2 separate regions of the Homo sapiens genome follow, and region 2 is reported to be linked to region 1. Evidence: microRNA targets listed by miRTarBase, many of them from high-throughput screens and not tested one by one. Region 1 holds a microRNA gene; the other region holds the end of a gene's coding sequence.
What was found. The annotated mature microRNA hsa-miR-4794 reads UCUGGCUAUCUCACGAGACUGU and lies in region 1 at 2,037-2,058, opposite strand. An mRNA with a match to its seed (bases 2 to 7 or 8) in the 3' UTR can be bound and repressed. Matches are read on the target gene's strand: a 7mer-m8 pairs with bases 2 to 8, a 7mer-A1 pairs with bases 2 to 7 and ends in A, and an 8mer does both.

Region 2: miRTarBase lists ZNF44 as a target of hsa-miR-4794. Seed matches in the 3' UTR shown: 7mer-m8 at 2,553-2,559.

Annotation. Positions count from the first base shown.
Region 1 is chr1:64,578,755-64,581,912 of GRCh38, reverse strand. MIR4794 (microRNA 4794) reads right to left here and starts at 2,066; the gene lies at 1,990-2,066. The region is part of intron 2 of CACHD1 (cache domain containing 1); the gene reads right to left. LOC124904195 (a long non-coding RNA gene) reads right to left here. Exons shown (of 2, transcript XR_007066150.1): 2 at 2,069-3,158.
Region 2 is chr19:12,269,604-12,272,698 of GRCh38, forward strand. ZNF44 (zinc finger protein 44) reads right to left here. Exons shown (of 4, transcript NM_016264.4): 4 at 2,205-3,095. The coding sequence ends at 2,804. Among named protein-coding and RNA genes, the nearest start is that of ZNF44, 24 kb to the right of the region's middle.

The sequences.
Region 1 (3,158 bases):
CGTTAAATAGAACAATACCTATCCATAAAATACCTTGCTGGAAAAAGGAAAACAAAGACTGTTGACATTATTGTCAGCATGACAGTGGGCATTGTGTGTTACAGAGCAACGACAATGACTGGGAGAATAAAGAGGAGAGACATTATCTGTTACTTGTGGTTCTGGGTTCACGGTTTTTCAAGGGGGATAATAACAGAAGGAAAGGAAACAACATTCAGTGTCTCCTGCTACACAGTCCCAGGGGACACCATTCTCAGTCTTCCATGTGAATGGCAATTCCTTGGAGTTGTACAATCCATATAAATGAAATGCACACTTAGAAATATACTTGTGTTTGGTCTGCTACACCTTTAAGATGAACAAATGTCTTTCTTAACTGCTGTGAACAGAACACTTCATCATGATTTACTTTCATGCAGGAATAATAAAAGCAAATTGGTAAGCATACTGCTTTTTCCTCCATTGTTCCCATCAAATACCACAGCTTCATCAAAGATCTCCAAGGAAAACTGTGTTGTTTTTTCTTCCCTTTAAACAAAATGTTACCCAAAGGAAATGACTGATAGAATTATAGCTAATTGGTTTTGTAGTGCTATTCATTATCATCACACTGGAGGAAAACTAATCATCTCCTTTGGGTCATGCGTCTCACACAATCCAATAGCTTCCAGGCTGAGAACATGGAGTCAAATCAAAATATCTTCATTTGTTATTTTCAAGCCAATTTTAAATCTTGATTTTGTTCCAGGGATATTCTATAGCTTTCAGGGTCTCAATTAAATAACTGAGGTTCTCAGCCTTGCTAGAAATTATATAAACTATAAAGTTTAGAAAAACTTCCAGACATAACAAAGGGATATGAGTATAATGTTTAATTGGATAATGGGTTGTCCAAATTCATTTTATCATTTTCAAAGGAGGAGTTGTGGGTCTTGGAAATGTACAAAATGACTCACAATACTCCCTGACCTAGACTTCTTACTATTAAAATAAAGTAGGTTTTCCTCATTGAGGTCATTGAATTAAAACATATAAACCCAGTTTAATTTAGACAACTGTTGGTTTTGCCACCCTCAGGGGACATTTGGAGAAAATTTTGATTGTCACAACTTGGTGGAGAATGCTGCAAAGTAGATAGATAGAGGCCAGGGATTCTCCTAAACATCCTACAATGCACAGGACAGCACCCCAAAACCAAGAATTATCTGGTTCAAATGCCACTAATGGCCCAGATGAGAAACCTTGAAACCTCGATTGATTGCTTTTTTAACAGGTGTTGGAAAATCACTTTTTAAGCAAAAAATTCACATTTTATTAAGGATATTAATATAACCCTTTCAGGGGTCCTCTAAAAATCTTTAGCAGTATCCTCTGATTGCAGTCAAATAATTATTAACCAGATGTTTTATTTAAGGGCTATTCTTGGGTATGATTCTGACCAATTTATTTTTTCTTTTCCAATTTTTATTTTAGGTTCGGGGGTACATGAGCACATTTGTTACATGGATAAATTGCACGTTACTAGGGTTTGCTGTACAAATGATTTTGTCACCCAGAAAAACTTTGATTGAGAGAAAAATCAGTAAATTATCCCAATTTGTAATTCAGTCAATAGGTTCCAAACTGTTCTTCTATTTGAATTCTCCACCCATCCAAAATGATAACTTATCAGGGAAAAAAAATCCTGTACATTTCAACAACTGCAATTTTTTTCATTCTTTGTTTTTCCTTCCCCAAAGCAATATTAAACAGGCCATCACACGTGGCCTAGATATGGAGAGAGGACTATTCACTCATTATCAAACGTGTTAACGTGGTTTTTAAACAGCAGCTTGCAACTAATCTAACAACCCTCTTTTCCTAGACTTTCACATTCAGTGGGCAGTAGAGGGTGTCAGAGCAATAGGCCCAGCTTGAAAACCTTATATTCTCATAATGCCCTGCATAAGCCATCTCATAACACACATTAAATTTGATGCTGTTTTTTTTTTTTAACATCTGGCTATCTCATGAGACTACAAGCACTGTTAGGACATACAGTCTCGTGAGATAGCCAGATGTTAAAAGATAACATACGATATATGTTTTTGTTCACCACTGTATCTTCAGGCTCTAGCACACTGCCTGGCATTATAGACATAGAAAAAATATTTAATGAAGTGATAAAGATTTTAAAAATTCATTCCTGAGAGTCATCAACCTTATCTTCTGTTCTAATAATCAACTCTTTTAAAACATACTTATTTTTAAAATATACAACAATATGTATTTCTGGAAGCTCCATCAAGAAGCAAGTTCTACCTTTTCTTTGTAGGTCCTGACTTCTGATAAAGTAAATATCATTAATTTCCCACATAGGAGTATTAAGTGCATAGTCCTTTATTGCCCTTGGGAATAAATGTTTTGTAACATAATGAACATAAGATGTAATTAAAAGAACTAAATTTTGAAATATCTTCACAAATTCACTTTAAAATAAAAACAAAATTTGTAGTCATATGTCCTTCTCTCTCACACACACACTCTTAATTCCACTTGAGAAATACCCAAGGGTTTCTTCTACACATTTGGAGGATTCTAACTTTGAAGAGTCAGATCTAGCTAAACTCAAGATATTCCAATCTGGTCCACTGCCTCTTTCTACATAGGCCATGAGCTAAGAATGATTCTTACACTTTTAAATGTTTTTTAAAGGAGAATATTTTTAATATTTAGTAGTTACATGAAATTCTAATTTTACTGTTAATATTTATTGGAACATGATCATTTGTTTACATATTGTTTACGGCTGCTTTCATTTTACAATGGCAGATTAAGTAGCTGCAAGAGTCTGTATGGCCTGCTTTGCTATAGGTAGAAGCCAGCGGCCCTAATTTATCCCCAGATGGAAACATAATCCCAGTGTGGTGCCATAATCCTAGTGTAGTGGTTTTATAGAAATTTCCTACAAATTCTTTAACAGGTCTACCCTTTGGCAGGTGGGGTCTACATGTCCCCCTGTCCCCACTGCTTAAATCTGGGTAGGCTTATGATGGCTTCTACTAGTGGAGTACAGAGAAAGTGATACTACGTGACTCCTAAAGCTAGGTCATAAAAGGACATGCCTGTCTCTTGGAACGCTTACTCTTGGTAGCTGTCAGCTACGCAGCTGTAAGAAG
Region 2 (3,095 bases), not on the chromosome of region 1:
CCTCCCACCTCAGCCTCCCAAAGTGCTGGAATTACAGATGTTGTGTCACCACACCTGGCCAATAGTTATAAATGTTATAACATTTCTTTGATGATGCAAATTTTCTGGAGCACTATACATGAGTTAATTTGGATTGGATTTTCCCAAATTACTTACATTATGGGATTTCTCCCCAATGAGCACTGGGATGAGGAGACTTCAATCCACCAAAGTTGTATATATATATATCCATGGAGGTGATACTTAGGTCATCTCATCAGAAAACACTCATACTTGTCCACAAATAGATGTTGCATATGGCATTAGTACCATCCTCAGAAATTTATATATATTTGCAAGAAATATTATTTTAAGTCAATAGTATATGCTATCATGAATACAGGATATGCTCACTCCATAAGCAGCAAATTGACTCCTTCACAGTTTTAATAGATTTCCAGTTGTTTTGTCTTCAGTCTCCTAAGAAGACAATGCTATAATCTCCAACCACATTATTTGCTTCTTCCATCCCATTCTTCATATTGATCATTGTTGTGTGACATTAGTTGACTACTGTAATGATAAATAACTAGGGTAAAATAGATACATTTGCTCTTTCTTAGGTTCCATTCCTCCTTTCAGTGGGAAGCCTCACACACACTCTCATCATGCTCTGCTATGAAACATAGCTTAACCAAGAATCGTATATCCAGCAAAGCTCATGTTCAATACAAAACAAAAATTTAATTTTTCTGTTATGCTGATGAAAAAGTGTAAGTGATGTTCTTGCCTTCTAACACTGTTATCGCTGCCACAGCCACTTGGTCAAGGATCATCAAGCAGATTAAGGCAATTTACACCCATTTCAACTTTTTTTTTTTCTTCTTGAGACCGAGTCTCACTCTGTCACCCAGACTGGAGTGCAGTGGTAGGATCTTGGCTCACTGCAACCTCTGCCTCCTGGGTTCAAGTGATTCTCCTGCCTCAGCCTTCCAAGTAGCTGGGACTACATGCGCATGACACCAGGCCCAGCTAATTTTTGTATTTTTAGTAGAGATGGGGTTTCACCATGTTGACCAGGCTGGTATCAAACTTTTGACCTCAAGTTGATCCATCTGCCTCAGCCTCCTAAAGTGCTAGGATTACAGGTGTGAACAAGTGTGCCCAGCCCCACCTCAATATTTATACAATTTATGTTGCCTTGATTCTAACCCTGACTGTACCACAGTGTACTTATGGAAGAGCTTCACAATTGCAGATGCAACTGTGCTTACTGCAGAGGCTGTAGATGCCCTAAAGCCCAGGACACCCAAAGCATATTGGAAGCCATTGGAGTGAGGGAGTAAGTGATTTCAGGGGTTTCCCCAAGACTGATACAGCAGTCAGGAATATCTTAAATGTTGCAAAGAAAGTTGGTGGAAAGGAAACTGAAGATATACTGAAATCCTCTACAAGTGATGATGATGATGATGATGATGATGATGATGCTGCTGATGATGCAGAAGATTAAGAAGAGGAGCAGTGCCATTGATTTGGACACGCGAAAAATTTGCAGCAGATCTTGGGGCATCTATAGCCTCTGCAAGTTGCAAGTGTTAAAGATAATCAACCTCAGCTAACATCCTTTGATTGAAAAAAGCTTCTGTGTCATATAAGGGAAAATATGCTAATGAACACTAAGGTTTTTTTAGGGATTCAAAGAAAAAGAACTAGCTTCCTAAAACAATGCTTCTAACTAAATATCTGCAAATATGAAGACATACCCTTCAACACAAACATCTTCAGCCCTCAAGCTGAACAGATGCTGACATTAGTATTAGCCTCCTGCAAAGAGTCAACATCTTCAATCAGAACCTGGGTCTTCCAACATAGATGAAGGTCTTGATGTCCTGTCAAGATTCAAGTTAGCCTGAGGTCTCACTGTTTATCTATGATGCCACACATCTAGTCACCTCTACACATCACATTAGGCACCATACAGCAATCATCATTGTCATAACCATCGTAATACTTGGGTTATCAAGAGAGAAGAACCAGAATTGTGGTTGGTGTTAACACATTCTTTCAGGTCATTAGACAAAAGTAATCTGAGTATTGAAACAAGAAACTGTAACATTATAGGTGATATATACGATGTAGATAGGCCTGCAATGGTTGGGTCTGTACTGAACACATATAGATTTTTTTTCTTATGATTCCCTAAACAATACAACTATGTACACAGCTTTTACAATGCATGAGATATTTTAATTAATCTAGACATTTATAGAGTATACAGGAGAATGTGGGTAGGTACATGCGAATATTCCATTTTATAAAAGAGCTGGCATCTGTGGATTTAGGTATACTCAGGGTGTACTGGAACCAATCTTCTTGCATATAGCAGGCAGCAACTCTATTTGAAAGAAATGGAAACTTTTTTTTTTTTTTTTGAGATGGAGTCTCGCTCTAGCACCCAAGCTGGAGTGCAGTAGTGCAATCTCGGCTCACTGCAACCTCCACCTCCCGGGTTCAAGGGATTCTCCTGCCTCAGCCTCCTGAGTAGCTAGGACTACAGGTGTGAGCAACTATGCCTGGCTATTTTTTTTTTTTTCCGTATTTTTAGTAGAGACAGGGTTTCCCATGTTAGCCAGGCTGGTCTCGATCTCCTGGCCTCGTGATCTGCCCTCCTCGGCCTCTCAAAGTGCTGGGATTACAGGTGTGAGCCGCTGCGCCCAGCCTGGAAACTTCTTAAGGCTTTACCACGTTTACATTCACAGGATTTATTTCTTTCAAGTATCTGAATGTGATAAAACCAATGAATGCTTTCCCACATTCCATACACTTATAGAATATCCTTCCAGTGTGTCCTTTTATGTCTATTAAAGGAACTGAGAGAACTGAAGGCTTTCCCACATTCCTTACATTCATAGGGCTTCTCTCCAGTGTGAGTTCTTTCATGTTCTCGACAGAAACTGGAACGACTGAAGGCTTTACCACAGTGTTTACATTCATAGGGTCTTTCTCCAGTGTGAGTCCTTTCATGTCTTAGAAGGAAAGAGGGCCAAAAGAATGCTTTCCTGCATTGCTTACATTCATATGGCTTCTCTGCCGTGTGAGTCCTTTCATGAGTTTTT